Regions from separate parts of the Homo sapiens genome. Here region 1 is linked to region 2. Evidence: fine-mapped expression QTL. Tissue or cell type: whole blood. Region 2 holds a variant in brackets; the other region holds the start of a gene. All regions are shown on one strand. Distances are from middle to middle.

What was found. PIP is the estimated chance that this variant, and not a neighbour inherited with it, causes the effect.
Region 1: it holds the start of CDH4-AS2, and the variant in region 2 is fine-mapped to the expression of CDH4-AS2 in whole blood (INTERVAL, PIP 0.92).

Annotation. Positions count from the first base shown.
Region 1 is chr20:61,716,021-61,724,119 of GRCh38, reverse strand. It overlaps CDH4-AS2 (CDH4 antisense RNA 2), which reads left to right and starts at 4,372. Exons shown (of 2, transcript NR_147702.1): 1 at 4,372-4,490; 2 at 4,734-6,614. All of the region lies in intron 2 of CDH4 (cadherin 4), which reads right to left.
Region 2 is chr20:61,826,746-61,834,844 of GRCh38, reverse strand. All of the region lies in intron 4 of CDH4 (cadherin 4), which reads right to left. Among named protein-coding and RNA genes, the nearest start is that of CDH4-AS1, 76 kb to the right of the region's middle. The variant G/A (reference allele first, on the strand shown) is at 4,068.

The DNA of each region.
Region 1 (8,099 bases), 110 kb after region 2:
AGCCTCCATCCTGTGCCCCCTGCATGGGGACCCACCCGCCCTGCCGCATGGAGCCTCCACCCTGTGCCCCCTGCATGGGGACCTACCCCCCTGCCACATGGAGCCTCCATCCTGTGCCCCCTGCATGGGGACCTACCCCCCTGCCACATGGAGCCTCCATCCTGTGCCCCCTGCATGGGGACCTACCCCCCTGCCACATGGAGCCTCCATCCTGTGCCCCCTGCATGGGGACCCACCCCACCTGCCGCATGGAGCCGCCAGCCGCTTGCACGTCTGGCTCATGTTCACTTCCAGGTTTCTAGGGCTGAATCCAAAGATGACCCTGAATTTTCCCAGCCCAGATCCCTCTGTAAACACACTCTGGTTGGCTGCCAACTATGTTTTCTAGAGTAAATAAGAAGTAACTCAGGAAATGCAAATAGATTTTCTCTTCTCTCTGCACCGCACAGCCCTGCCCAGGAAACCTCTCCCTGTCAGCCCTCTTGTCCCAGGTGCGTTCACTTCTCATGCATTTTTGAGCTGTTCAGGGAACCCTCGAGAAGAGCAGGTGCTTGGGGTATCTGTAAAGTGAGGATGGAAGCTCCTAGGGTCTCAGGTGCCCATCATGCCCAGTCCCTCAGCAGGGCCCAGGCCAACCCTGCCTTGAGCAAAGGGAAGCCAAGCCCGGAGGAGGCTGCAGGCCCTGGGGAGGAAAACGACAGAGCCAGAACCCACTCATTTAAACGGCAGCTGCACTGCTTGCCCCATGGCGCACGGTGCTCAGAGGGCCCCGGGAGGGGCCTGCCCGGTGCTGAGGAGCCAGGACGGGGGTCCGGAGGAGGTGCAGGGGCTCCTCACCCAGTGAGGCTGCCCTTGGGCAGGGGAGCAGCCACCACTGAGACCAAGGGTCCACTTCCCTCCAGGCTGACCAGGGCTCCATGAAGCCGTGTGAGGATATTGCTGAGGACTTCTTCGGGAAAAACAAGGACTCTGATCCTCTGGGAGTCGGGGACACATGACCAGACTCATGGTGATCGGTGATGAAGAGTGAGGTCTGCCCTTGTGCAGAAGGAAAATCACCATTCCACTTTCTAATGTCTTCTACAGCGTCCTCTTCCTCAGCCAGGGGTCAGTCCAAAGCAAGCAGGACCCAGGATGTCTGTGGTGGCCGTTCCTGATCCAAATCCTGTTTCTAAAGAGCACGAGGAAAGAATCAGCGGATACTCTCAGGTCACAACAGCATCGTCCCAGGAACGTCTTCTCTCTTCTTGGAAATTTTCAATGCACATCAGAGGGTCTGAGAAGTCCTAGAGGGGAGGTGATCACGGGACCCCCACAAAATTTCTGCTTTCCTTGGATGAAAGGCATTGTTGGAAATTCAGGGTGTATCTGTCAGTGCAGGCTGGGTTAGGAGTACCAAACTGCTCCCAGATCTTGTCACTTGAAAGAGCAGAGCGTGATGCTGGTCCATGCACATGACATGTCCACTGTGCATGCGTGGGGGGTGGGGGGGCGCCCTGCCCTGCAGAGTCCTTGGGACAGAGTGGAAGAGGCTTGTTTTTCTGCTTCCACGATGGCCAGTGCAGAGACTGGCCACAAGGGATTAGACACAGCCTGGTAAGGCCCCTCCTGGGGGGATGCACCTGGGTCCTGCTTCCATTTCATTGGCCAAGACAAGTCATGTGGTCGCCTCTAACTTCAGAGGCCTGAGGAGGTGAAATCCTTCCTCACTTCTGGAAGGATGAGTGGGCTCTGTGCCAAGGATATGTCAACATGTGTGTAGCAGTGAGTGCTGATGACGGCGGCTGGCATGACCAGCACGCTGGGCTAGAGGTCGTCTCTGTTGTTCATCAGCAGCCCTTCCACAGCATTGAGAGATAGTCCTGACTTTCCAACCATGGCTTCTTTTCTGCAATAAATACAATGTCACTTACAAAGAAAAAAAACCCCAAAGCAGGTCCTGCATCTAAAGAAGTAATTTTAATGGATACTTCCAAAATAATCTGCCATTTCTTCTTGGCCTGGGGCGTGCTTGTCTGTATGTTTCTCTGCAAAGGCTTCCTAAATCTCTGTGCAATCTCAGTTTGTTCTTTCTCTCACATTGGACGGTGAGGTGCCTGAAGGTGGAGGTTGTGAGGTTTCTGTCTTCTGTCCTTGAGCAGGAAAGAGCCCAGGGCCCCCACTCTCCAGCACACCCCATTTCTCTGAAAGGGCCAATGGAGAGTGTGGGCCATGGAGCCTCCCACAGCCAGGGAAGGGATGCCACACAGCGGGCCGGGTCCTGCAGGAATTTGTCAAGATTCCTGCCCATCCAATATCCACTCTGATGATTTAATTTGTGGCTGGGGAAAAAAGCTGGTAATGAAGTCAGTTTGGAGGTGATTGATACTTCACGAGGTCCTTGACCGATCCCCAAGCCTCACCAATGCCCCCTTCCAGAGAAGCATATCACCAGCCCTCAACAACACTGCCCCAAGGGGAAATGTGCATGGTGCATTATGCAAATGAAGCGTTTCTCCTGAGGTAATTATCCCTGTGCAATTCTGACATGAAGTCTTGATAAAGAATTGTTTTTTAAGATAGCAGTGAAAAAGCCCAGCTAAATGCATAAAAGTTATATGACATTTTACCCTTGGGTGTAAATTATAATTTGCAGAAAGGTCAATGAACCAGAAATGATTTTTTTTCTGATGATTTAGACACTGAGAAGCAGGAGGGCTGGAGGCAGAGGGAGAGCCCCTGGTGTCCATCCTCCAGGCCGGGGTGGGCTCCTCTTCTGGAGAGGACTGTCCAGCAGCCTGGCCAACCATGCCTGGCCTTAATTCCATCCATTTCTAGTGAGTTACAGCTTCTGCTGAATGCACATTAGAAGATGGTGAAAGAAAGCTCTGGGCTTTCCTTAGAGAGCAAAGCATGCTCTCAGTGAAGGGCAGCCTCTGGACTGGACCCTTCTGGCTGCTGAGAAGAGACATACTCATCCTGGAGGCATTCAATTCACCTCCCGCTTCAGGTCACTGAGTCCCACTGTGCGCTTAGCTCCTACTCTGTGCTAGAGCTACTGGAGGGTGCAAGAGTGGCAAGCTACCTCGGGAGGAGCTCAGGGCAGGGAGCCGGGGGGACACATGGTGTGGCCTTGGAGAGCTGAACCCTCGGAACGTCGGATCTGACCAAGCACAATGCCCAGAAACCACCAGGCACTCGCCTGTAGCCAACAAGTCAGGTTTAATGACTCACTGGACCAAGGGAAGCCACCAAGCTAATGGTTACTGTCTCATGTCAAAGGGAAATAACCACCTCTACCTGGCAGGGTGTTTGAGACAATTCAATGTGATGGTACAATGAGAGAACACGCCTCCCCGACCCCTACAATCCCCAGCTTTTAGAGGCAGCTGGGAGGTTTAGCTGAATAGGGAGGAGCCTGTGTGTATCCACGGATCAGAAAATCACGCTGGAGAGAAAAGCATGCAAGCAAATACACAGAACACAGACACAAGACGATGGCTTAGGAATGGCACTCTGCACCCCTGCATGCTGCACCCCTGCACTGTACACCCCTACTCTGTACCCCTGTACTCTGCACCCCTGCACCCCTACACTCTGCACCCCATACCCCTCCACTCTGTACCCCTCCACTCTGCATCCCTGCACCCCTACACCCCTGCATTCTCCACCCCTTCACCCCTCCACTCTGCACCCCTACATCTTGCATCCCTGCACCCCTACACACTTACACTTCGCACCCCTGCACCCCTACACTCTGCACCCCTGCACGTGTCCCCTGCATCACTCTCAAGTTGCTGCCCTGCTTCCTGGTGAGTCAAGACCAAGCTGTGGAATCCGGAGCAGGATGGGGGGCCAGGAGGTGCGGCCCATAGAGCACAGAACTAAACCTGGCTGCTGCATCCTTGAGAGATGGGGAGACTTCAGCTCCTCTCACCACCAACGTTCGCCCAAAACATGAGTCAACTTACGTGAACATGCCCTCCACCCGAAGGCAGGAGGGCCCTGCAGACACACGGGCGATGCTGCCAAACAGCAGGCGGCACTCCCCAACCCCCACCGCCGACTGCCCTCCACTACCGCCTCCTTCTCCGTTACTGAGACATGGGAGGAACTTGCAAGAAGGAAGACGCCCGCTCACCCATGAGCATGGTGCAAAGTGGTAACTGCGGTGCTTAAACTCTGGGAGGGAGCACACCGCAATGTCTTATCACCTTTTCTGCTGTTCACAAAAGCAAGGTGCTTCCCCACCAGCCGCGCCTTCATCTCAACAGTCAGGGCTGCAAGGTTTATCTTAATTTAAAAAACAATTACAAGCGAAACAGAAACTGCCAGGAATTATCCACTCTTCAGAAGGAAAGAACAAAAGGAAGTGACGAGAGACAGGGCCCCATCTTGTCGTATGATATTAACACGGCTGCTCGGAAACACCTCGAGAGAGACACCAGCTTTCCCCACGCTCTTCCTTTGGTTTCTCTTCTGGGGGGACATTGGATCGCACAGCTTTGCAGGTGAGCACAGCCTAAACATAGCTCCATGCGTTTTGCATCCATAACTCTAAAGGCTTTTGTGATTTAAAGCGGCAATTATACAGAGGAACGAGATAAAGACTCCCGAGAAATTATCTCTCTTTGGGTTGGGAGGGGAAGAAAAGCCAGCGAAGGTTAATGTAGTTAGTGAAATATTTCCACAGTTATTTCACGCAAGCATTTTGCAATATTGCTAATGTTTTTGCACATTACATGCTCTTCCAGGGGAAAAACAGCTTGTGTTTTTGAAAGCAAGGAATAAAAACCTCACAGGCCTCCGTGGCTGACTCGTACCTTGGAAGATTCTGCAATGAGGCCACACGGCACAGAAATGTTCTTTTACATCCAGACACTAAACAGTGGCTTGCATCCTTCTCTGTATTAGCAATGAACAAAAACTACCAAGACTTAAAAAAAAAAATCTCTGATTAGAACCCATGGATGCTGACAATTATGTGTGGCTTTCAGATGCAAAGCCATTTGGCTGCAGGTGACATGAAGAGGCTGGGATACGATTTTGATCATTTGCTTTCGCCAGCACTTCCTATTAGCACGAGTGTGGCCAGGGAGGGTCCTTCTCTCATCACACTTAGAGCCACTCGTGATGCTGAGTGTGCTCTTTCATCTGGTGCAGGGCAGGGGGCAGGGCGAGGAGAGAAGACCCCTGCTTCACCCACTAACCAACACCCTGGGCTGGAAGAGCTCCAACAAGCAGCAGACAGAGAGTTCCATCCCCAGCCTGACAGCAGGAACAGTGAAGTCCAAGATAGAGCCAGCTGTCGCTGGGAGCCCGGGATGGTGGGTGCAGCCTCCTCCGCAGCTGGTGAGAGTGTGTGTGTGCAGGGGTGTAGGGTGGCCTGTTAGCCTAGTGTCTCCTGCACTCAAATGCCCTGTTTCAGTTGAGTAAGCTAATTCACACAGTGTCATGCAGGCTCCTCTGGCTTCGGTTCAAGTTAATGTCCCATTGAAAGGCTTCTGTTCACCTTAGGACACCCAGTCGGGTAGCCCCTGCAGCGCTCTGCCCTGTGAGCCTGTGCAGGTGGTGCTTGGCTGTGATCGAGGTTGGCCTGTTCCAGGAAGGGAAGCACGGCCTGGGATATGGGACGGCACTGTCCTGGCACTGCCTCTAACCAGCGTCAGCCTTAGCAGGCACCTGCCTCCTTCTGTGTTGGGTGTGTCCAGAGCCAGAGAGGAGCATTCCTTTTCATCACACCTGAATTATCTCCTTCAACACCCAGAGGGACCAGGCTCCCACCCTTGGCATGATCCAGGAAGAACAGTGACTCGAGTGTGGCTTGGCAGCGCCTTACAGGAGAGGCAGGGATGCCGAGAAGGGCAGGTTTGGGCTTCCCCCGGAGGCAGAGTGGGGTCTGGAAGGCAGGGCCCCTTGGACAGCATATACCCTTCACCCTGCCCTGGGGAAGGCAGCAGGACCCAGCGGCTCAGTCTTCCGGGTGGGTCCTAACCAGCCCCACCCCCACAGTGTGGGTGCTCCCTTGCCTTCTCTGGGACCAGGTCAGCGTGGCTACAGTAAAGGGCCGCATCCCTTCACAGGGGACGCTACCCACAGAGGCCAGCATTGGTAGGGTGCTGAGGATGTGATGTGTGAGGTTGTAGGGGACATCAGGGCCTTCTGTGGCACAGGCAGGACTTGACCTCAGGCGGTGGGCTCCTCGGCCTCCCTCACAGTGCCAGAGCCCACTCTCCTGTCTCCATGTCAGTCCCTTCCACTAAACTAGCCCAACACCTGGTTCACGGCTACCTGAGCACACTGGGGGCTGGGGGCGGGGGGCAGGGCGGTGATGCACACTTATTAAAACCAAGTATCAGACATGGTGGCTCACGCCTGTCATCCCAGCACGTTGGGAGGCCGAGGCCGGCAGATCACCTTAAGGTCAGGAGTTCGAGACCAGCCTGACCAACATGGTGAAAACCTGCCTCTATGAAAAATTCAAAATTATCCAGGTGTGGTGGTGTGCGCCTGTAATCCCAGCTACTCAGGGGGCTGAGGCAGGAGAATCACTTGAACCCAGGATGCAGAGGTTGCAGTGAACCAAGATCGCACCACTGCACTCCAGCTTCGGTGACAGGGCGAGACTCCATCTCAAAAAAACAAACAAACAAACAAAAAAACAACGACAAAAAACCAAAAACCAAAAACCAAAAAAACCCCACGAAATATCTGTGGGGGGAAACTGTGCTTCCAGCTGCCCAAGTGATGGGCGCCACTGCAAAGAGTCCCCGTGCTCAGAGAGCAGCAGCGTCTGTGGCTGGTCCTGCCCAGTACTGGGCCACTCTCTGTCCTGTCCACCCTGTGTTGTCACTAGCTCCCGGTGGCATGGTGCTCATGGCCCTGTGGCTGTCCTGGGCTGCTCCCGCTCCCCTGCCTTTGTCCTGTGACAGCAGCAGCAGTGGGGACAAGTCAAGGGGGACTTGGTGCATGTTGAGTGCTTTACTCATCTCTGCCAAGCAGGAGGAGCTGCTCCTGCCACCCTGCCCTGACGCCCTGCCCTGCTCATGGCCCAGCATGCTGAGGAGCAGGGATGGGAAGAAGCTGCTGGCACTGGCAGCCAGTGGGCCATGACGAGGGTGCAGAGGGTTTCCTCTACCTGGTGAATGCCTGCCCAAGAACCACATTCCACAGCCTCAAGGTCAGTTATACATCAAGGACCTTGGATTTTATTTATTATTTATTTATTTTTTTGAGATAGAGGCTCACTCTGTTGCCCAGGCTCGAGTACAGTGGTGGGATCTCAGCTCCCTGCAACCTCTGCCTCCCAGGTTTGAGCAATTCTCCTGCTTCAGCCTCCTTAGTAGCTGGGATTACAGGCACCCACCAAACACCTAGCTAATTTTTGTATTTTTAGTAGAGATGGGGTTTCACCATGTTGGCCAGGCTGGTCTCAAACTCCTGACTTCAGATGATCCTCCTGCCTCGGCCTCCCAAAGTGCTGGGATTACAGGTGTGAACACCACACTTGATCCAACCTCAGCTATTAGATGAAGCGAAGGGCTTTGGTGAGTCTTTCTTTGCGGGACACAAGCCTGCACTATTCTGTAGACAAGCCCATGGGGATTACCTTAGTGGGTGCCTGTGGACAGGTGAAAAGCAGCACTCAGACCTCCAGTGAGGATGGGACACTTCCTCCTGCTGGGTCCTGCCCCCAAAGCCCCAGCTCAGGGCAAGAGGCAGCTCATAGGTGATGAGCGTCCACCCCTTTACAGCTCCAGCCAAGAGGAGGCTCACAGGCGAGGAGCGTCCACCCCTTTACAGGTCCAGCCAAGAGGCAGCTCATGGGTGAGGAGTGTCCACCCCTTTACAGGTCCAGCCAAGGGGAGGCTCACAGGGAAGGAGCATCTGTCCCTTTATAGCTCCAGCCAAGGGGCGGCTCACAGGTGAGGAGCATCTGCCCCTTTATAGCTCCAGCCAAGGGGCGGCTCACAGGTGAGGAGCATCTACCCCTTTACAGCTCCAGCCAAGGGGTGGCTCACAGGTGAGGAGCATCTGCCCCTTTACAGCTCCAGCCGAGCACAGTGACAGCAAAAGAAGCCACCTCCAGAGCCCCAGCTGGCACTGGGGCTGCTGCTGCC
Region 2 (8,099 bases):
GAGTGGAGGCAGCTTCTGCTTCTGACTCGGGCTAGGAATAATCCTGCCTATCAGAGAGCCACACAGCTAAAGCCAAGTCCAAAGCCGAGACGGGTTCTTTGTTGTTTCAGCCCGTGAGGCTGCGGGGATAGGCAGCGCCAAGTGTCAACCTGTAGCGCAGCGTGTTCGCCCTCAGAGGTGTCGCCCATGCCATCCCCTGATTAGTCCCTGTCATTTTCTGGCTCCAACATGAGAAGTCAGGAGTCTCGTCAGAAAACCTTCATTGATATTTAATGCACGCGTCCCCACCTGTCTCTGGAAGGTCTTGTCACACAGCGTCTACTTTCCTCTAACAGGACCTGTCTGCCCCTGTAAATGTGCCACACTGCTGGGGATACGGGAGCAGGGTCCTGTCCCTTGGGGGCCGGGCTGGAAGATGCAGGGAGCTTAGACCCTGCCTGGGCTGGAGCACAGGTGCAGGTGTAGTGGGAGCCCAAGGGGGCCAGTGTCCAGCAGAAAAGATGGAGGCCAGACCCCAGACCCCAGGCCCCAGATCCTAGGCCACAGGCCCCAGAAGGAGAGGCAGCTGAGTGAGGGGGGGCAAGGGGCAGCAAAGGAGGGCATTTAGGGGCAGCAAGGAAGCCATGAGGCTGGAGTCAGGCCCGAGAAGGAGGTTGCCGTCAGCCCTGGCTTTGCCTGCCGAGACCCACTTCTGCCAGTCTTTGGAAATCACCCCGGCCCACCCTTGCTCTGCATGGACTGTGTGGGGGAACCATCCCACCTGGCCCCAGGACAGCCATGGGACCCCACGTGGACCAATGAGAGTGCACCTCCCTGGGCACTGTGATTGGCTAGGAAGGACATGTGACCCACGCTGGGCCAATAGGAAGGAGACCTGCCAGAATGGATGTCTCCCACTCCTGCACCCTGTGCCTCCAGGCAGTGCTCCCATAGACGAAGAGGAGGGGGCGCCTCCTCACTGGCTCTTCACTTTGGGAAATGGTTTTATCTCCTCATCTGGAAATGGGATTTTTTAAATCCAGCCTGCAGAGCTGTTGCCAAGAGTATATGAAAGATGGTAACTGAGGATCTGCAGTGTCTGTAATTCGATGCTGATGGCCGAGTGCTGTGCTCAGTCACCATGGGGGCTGAGTACTGTGCTCAGTCAGTTATAAGGGCTGAGTACTGTGCTTGGTCAGTTATGAGGGCTCAGTACTGTGCTCAGTCAGTAATGAAGGCTGAGTACTCTTGCTTAGTAATGTGGGTTGAATACTGAGCTTTGTCAATAAATGAAGGCTGAATACTGATGTTTGTGAATAAATCTGGGCTTTTTGTGTTGTCAGTAATGAGGCCTGAGTACTATGCTATGTCACTAAATGTGGGCTGAATATTGGTTTAATCATTAATTTAATCAGTAATAATGCCGGAATACTATGTTTGCTGTCTCCCCCGGAGAGCTCTGCATACTAGTAGACACACAGAAAGTGCTCTGCAAACCAGAGTGGATGATTGAATGAAACAAGGGACAAGGGGCAATAAATATCTGTATATCCAGCCTGGAGGTCCCAGACCACAAGAATAAAATGATTTAATTTAGGTTTTTACTGCATGATGGCACTTTTAGGTCTCGTCCATTGGAAACGTCAGAAATCCCAATGTAACTGGCTCAAGCAAAAAGGCAATGTGCTGGCTCCTATCCTGGAGTGGTGTGGGTTTCAGGCATGGCTGGATCATGCGGGCTGAGTACTGTGTTCACTCACTCATGGGGGCTGAGTACCGTGCTCAGTCCATTATGAGGGTGACCATTCTGACGGGGCTCTCAGCACTTGCTCAGCCCACCCCTCAGACTCGCAGGTACTCTCTCCCCTTCTGCTGCCTCACACTTCTGTGCTTACATCCCATCAGCCTAGCAGCCCCAGGGGTAACAGCAATAGGCTGACATTACAATTTTGACAGTACTAGTAATAGCATCAGTGTCAGGGGCACAGAAATAAGAGGTCGTAGAACCAGTGATGATGGTAATGACAACGGATGCTTCCCTAACTAGTTTGCAGTGCCAGGCAGTACCCCAGGTGGTATGGTTAGACTTTGTGTCCCCACCCGAATCTCATCTTGAATTGTAATACCCAGGTGTTGAGAGGGAGACCTGGTGGGAGATGAATGGATCATGGGGGCAGTTCCCCCATGCAGTTCTCATGAGAGTGAGTGAGTCTCACGAGATCTGATGGTTTCATAAGTGTCTGGCGTGTCCCCTGCTCGCACTTCTCTCTCCTGCCTCCATGTGAAGAAGGTCCTTGCTTCCCCTTCGCCTTCTGCCCTGATTGTCAGTTTCTTGAGGCTTCCCAAGCCCTGTGGAACTGTGAGTCAATTAAACCTGTTTCCTTTGTAAACTATCCAGTCTTGGATAGTATCTTTACAGCAGTGTGAAAATGAACTAGTACACTAGTCACATTACATCCATCCACTCACTTACTCATCACCACAACCCAAGGCAGTGCCGTTAATACAGACAAGGCCATTCATATGCAGCCCTTCCCTGTTACAGATGAGGAAACTGCAGCACAGGGAGGTTGAGTCACTCACCCAAGATCACACAGCTCACAAGCCCTTGAGCTGGGATCCAGAACCCAGGTGTCCTGGCCCCAGTGCCCCTGCTCTGACCCACCAGCTCCCTGCCTCAGTAGGGAAGGTGGCTGTTTCCAGACAGCTCCGTCAAATGTCCTGGGGCAGACACTCATTGGCTCTTACCCCAGCCTTGAAGCAGCTGCCATGGCTGGAGGTTGGAATGGGTACATCTACCAGGCCTGGGTTGGCAGCAGCATCCACCCAACTTGCAGGATGAGTGGGCAAGGTGGTCTCCTGGTCAAAGGAGATGGAAGGAGGAAGTGGATGCAGGCAGGCTCCAGCCGCTCCTGCCCAGGCCCGAGGCTTCCAGCCAGTCCTACCTGTCGGGTGCCTGTGCCACATCTCATAGCCTTCTGGAAGCCATGAGCCTCTCGGCCTCTGTGGGAATGAAGGCAAATGCTGGAGAGGCTGGAGGATTCAGAATTGTGCACACCACGTGCCAGTGACACCTTCTCCCCTTAACGCTGGGAATCCCACTGCAGGGGTGGTATGTTGCGGAGAAATCCCTGTCCCCCCACCCCGCCCAGGAGCCTGGAGGGACCACATGAGGGTGTGCAGGGTGGGCCTGGGGTCCTGAGGGGGAGGAGGCTGCACTGTGGCCTGCCGGACATTTGCTTTGTTCGGCATCAAAGTTTGATGAGGACAGGGACCTGCTGCATGGTTCAGGTGAAGCATAAGACCAGAAGCTAGCGAAAAGCTGGTATTAATGGAAGGTCAGGGAGTAGCGCATTCGGGGTGTCAGGCCTGGCTGTGGCCAAGGGACTCACCCGTCCTGGAGGGGGTGCAGGCTCTACAGGTGCAGGGATTTGAGCACAGGCTCTGCTAACAGAGGCCTGGGGCTCTTCCCTCGAGACTTCACTGCTCGCTAAAATGGACAACTTTTTACAAAGAAATGGCTGCTTCTCAGTTGAAATTCAGCCTGGAAGTGGGCCAGGTCTTTGCTGGTCACCACGAGGACCCATCACCATGATTTATCCTTTTAATTGAAATTTCACTTTTATTTATCCTCAAGTGCAGGGCATGTTCCCAGTGCCAGATGTGGTCAGGGCAGCCACAGGAAGGAAGCTTTGGCCGCCTGGTCTACCAGGGACATAACGCCAGTGTGAGGCTGGTGAGGAGGCTGAGAAGATCGATTTCAAGCAAACTCCATTCACAAAAGCTCCCCCAAGAGTTGAGGGTAGCCAGTGCCTCCAGGAGGGGCGAGACCCCGGCCCTCTTTCCCAGAGTTCTTCCCTTTCCCTGCCCTCGAGGCCTTCAGAGCTCAGCTTCAAACCCCACTCCAGGAGCCCTCCCGACTGACATTTCAATTTCCTAACTGCAGCAGCGGGTTCCTGCACCATCAACAAACAGGGCATCAGGAGAGAGGAGCGGAGGTGGGCAGTTGGCAAGCTCCTGCAGCTCCGAGACTCAGCACGTGCGACCAAGAGCAAGATGTGTAGAGGCAAGAAAGGGCGCCCAGAAGC[G/A]GAAGTAAATGACCGCGGAGTGAAGCCAGCGCCGCCCGCTCCTGCCGCTCTGCAGGGCCTGCCTGCGATGGATTCTGGCCTCGGGGGAAGAACTTAATGGGTGAGGAAGGGGGACCAAGTTCATTTCAGTGTCTCTCCGGAGCACACGCTAGGGCGTCTGTTGAGGTGGGCAAGCTCAGCATGGGGGAGGCCTGGGAGGCGGGGCCGCTGCAGATCTCCTGGGGTTCCTGTCAGCCCAGCCCCACCTCACCAGCAGCAGAAACGGGGCAACCTGGGCTGGCCAGGTCCTGGGGGGCCTTGGGAGGTGGTGGCCCTGGGCCGGATGGCAGAGGCCCCGGGAGGTGTGTGCTGCCCTCCTGGATGCAGGGGGACAGGTGGAGTGTGGCAGGCGGTAGAAGCCCAGGGAGGGTCCCGGGGAAGCACGCTTAGGGCCTGCTGTCTCTGAGGCAGAGGATGTGGATGGACTTGAGTATGTTCCACGCAGGACGCTGAGCCCCAGGATGTGCCGTGCTGCGCAGGTGCAGGGATGTGGCCTCTGACAAGAGAGGACTCGCCTGCTCCCTCGGAGCCTCTGTCTAGTGAGAACAGGAGGCATGCTCAATTTCACCTGGGGGCGGGGGGCTCCAAGGAGATGGATCTGGGTCACATGAACGGGTGTGGGGGTGGGGCATGGGGGTAGAACTGCGGGAGTGGGGTTGGGGGGCAGTCCCCATGAAGGTAGGGCTGTGGGGGACAGAAAAAAAATTTAGAGATCTGGGGCCTGCAAGGGTTTCCATAGCATGTAATGGGAGTTTGGGTCGGCTTGCCAAACACACCAAACCACCCACCTGCACTTCCCACACCTGCCTCCCAGCCCCAGGGCCGGCCGGGCAGGAGCCTCGTCCCTCCCACCCCAGCAGGCTAGGGGCGGGAGGGATGAGGGAAATGAGCTTTGCCCCTGGTCCAAGGGGACTGGGGTCTGGAGGAGGGCTGCACAGACTCCCTGGGGGCAGAGCCATCAGCCCCAAAGCTGGAGGCTGAGCAAGGGTCCCACAGTCACCCACCCGTCTGCAGCCCACGGGCGTCGGCACAGAGGGAGCCTCCTGGGGGCTCCTGGAGTCCAAGTCCGTCCCCAGTGGTGAGTCCGTATTTAATGCTTGGCAGAGGAGCCCCCACTCGCCAGGGCTTCCTCAACAGGAGGCCCGCAGAGCCGCCGTGGAAAACAGGCTCGTGGCCTCCAGAAAGGCGAGCAGAGCTGCTGCATGCGTGACCCAGCAATCCCACTGCTGGGCAGACACCCTAAGAATCAACATCTGTCCACAGAAAGCCTTGCACACAGACGTGCCCGGCAGCACACTGACAACAGCCCCAAAGTGCAACCGCCAAGTGTCTGTCAGCTGCTGAGTGGCTAAACGTGGTCCACCCACACAGTGAAATGTTATTTGGCCCTGAAAGGAACTAGGTTCTGATACGAGCTGCAGCATGGCTGAACCTTGAAAACATTATGCTCAGCGAAAGAAGCCGGACACAAACCCCACATAATACCTCCTTCCATTGACACAAAGTATGCAGGACAGGCAAATCCATAGAGACAGGAAGTACGTTATTGGCTGCTGGGGGCGAGGCCAGGGAAGGAGAAGCGACTGCTTAAAGCAGGGTCCCCAACCCGGTACCGGTCTGTGGCCTGTTAGGAACTGGGCCGCACAGCTGGAGGTGAGTGGTGGCCGGGCGAGCATGACTGCCAGAGCCTCCAGTGCTCCGCCTCCCATGATGTCAGTGGTGGCATTAGACTCTCACAGGAGTGTGGACCCTGTTGTGACCTGCGCATGTGGATGGAGGCTGCACGCTCCTTGTGAGAATCTAATGCCTGATGATCTGAGCTGGAACAGCTTCATCCCGGAAGCATCCTCCTTCCCTGGGTCCATGGGAAAATTGTCTTCCAGGAAACCAGTCTCTGGTGCCAAAAAGGTTAGGGACTGCTTATCTTATCTTTACAAGCATACGCTGAGGCAGGTAAAATAATCATGCCTAGCTTATAAGTGAGGAAGCAGAGGCACAGAGAGGCTCAGTGTCTGAGCCAAGGCCACACAGAAGTGAAGTGCAGAGACTGGGAGCTGAGCCAAGCCTGCAGGACTCCCACAGGGAGGCCATCAGCAAAGGGAAGGAAGAGCCTTGGGAAGCAGTCCATTTCCTCAGGACCCTCCCCTCAGGACCTCTGAGCAAGAAGTCGATTCCGAAGGTGGGGCACACACTGCCACCAGCTGATTGTGCTCTTAGATCCCCTTGAATTTAGAGGTTCCTCCCTCTCTTTCTATCTTCTTGTGGTTCATGTGTTGAGGAAACCAGATCGTTGGTCCTACAGTTTCCCCAGGACTGGATTTTGCTGGCTTCTCCCTATGGTGAGATTTAATCTGTCTCCCTCTCTTTTGTATCCTACACATGGTGGTAAGATCCAGAGGCCAGGTCAGGATCATGTGTAATGGGGGGAGGCAAATACTTCACAGGTGGCGGGTGGTGGGTGCTTTCGTTAGATGCGGGTAATGTCTGTTTTCTCTCTTTTTCTTGGTCTCTCTCGTTGCCACTGTCTCTCTTTTATTTATCAATTTTTTGGGAGGTTAGCAGCCACTAATGATCATTGTCTAGACCCATTATTTCATTAAAGATCACAAAATAGAAATATTTCATCACCTCTACCTCATTTATCAGGTGGAAAACTTTATGAGGTGCAACTTCCCGTCATATTACCTTGAGGCAGTGGGCATATAGAAATGTCAGGAAAATGCTTAGTTCTTTTGCTTTATTTTCCTGTTTTCAAAATAATGAGTTGGTTACTTAGCTTCCTCAAGGGTGACCCGTGAGATTTATTTATTTGTAAAGAATCCTGAAGAATCTAACCTACTAGATCTATTTCCATCTGTTGCAATTGCTACACTGAGAAACTGTTCCATTTTGACCAGTGGGAGCATCTTCAAGTTGACCTGGGTGTCCTGTTGGTGTGACCCTGTCGTCTCTGAGTGTTCATTTGCCTGCTGGTGTGACAAAGTGTTTTGGTCTCATCTTGTACATTTCCTACCTAGAATTAAATTTTCTCTAAGAAGCACTGATTCCTCTTGGTAGGAAACGGTCTTTAGAGGCCATAGCCTAGGGGCTTGGGTGTTCAGTGCTATTGGGCTGGTCTTTTATTTCTCTATAATGGATAGAGCTAGGAAATACATTTTTTAAAAAAGTTGTCATATATCAGGAGTTCACATTAATACCTAAAACCAAATTGAGGACTACAAGGTAGTAGAAATCATTGATTTCACATCTGTGTCTCCTTTCTCCCATACCAATAATCCTGGTCCTCAATACTTATTCATTTGCTTTATTCCATAGGACACAAACAACAGTCTCAAAATAGCAATACCAATAAATCCCAAACAACATGGTTACTGAAAGTAGTTATGATTTTTCTTTTTGGTCTTGGACTATATCCCACCAGGAATATGTAAGTAAAATTATCACGTCTTAAAGTCACTTAAAATAATTAAAATAATTCCCACCGGTGTAGCAATGTCACCAACTTGATAGACGGACGCGTTGATTCCCTTTTGCTTTTGATTTTCAGGGCTTGCTTTGTTAATGTATTGTAAAAGATAACTTTGTAAAAATCTTTCAAAGTCAAATCCACCGAGGTCTATTCTGAGACGTTCAGCTTCTATTTCTATCCCCTCTATCCTGGCCTCTTCCTTCCCCACATTTGTTCATTTTTTATTTATTGTATCTTTTTTTACAATAAGGAAACACATACACACACACACACACACACACACACACACACACACACACACACACACTTTTCCCTTCTTAAATGGTAATAGCTATGCACATTTTCCTCTACCTTGCTTTTTTAACTTACTGGTCCCGGATCATGGTTTTGTCTTCAGACCTCTCTGTGGACTGCAGAACCTCTGCACTGGATGGGCCAAGAGCAGAGGTGAGGAGACAGGTAGGAGGCCATGAGGCCACCAGGTGAGCAAGGTGGGCAGCCTGGTGAGTGAATGCTATCCTAGG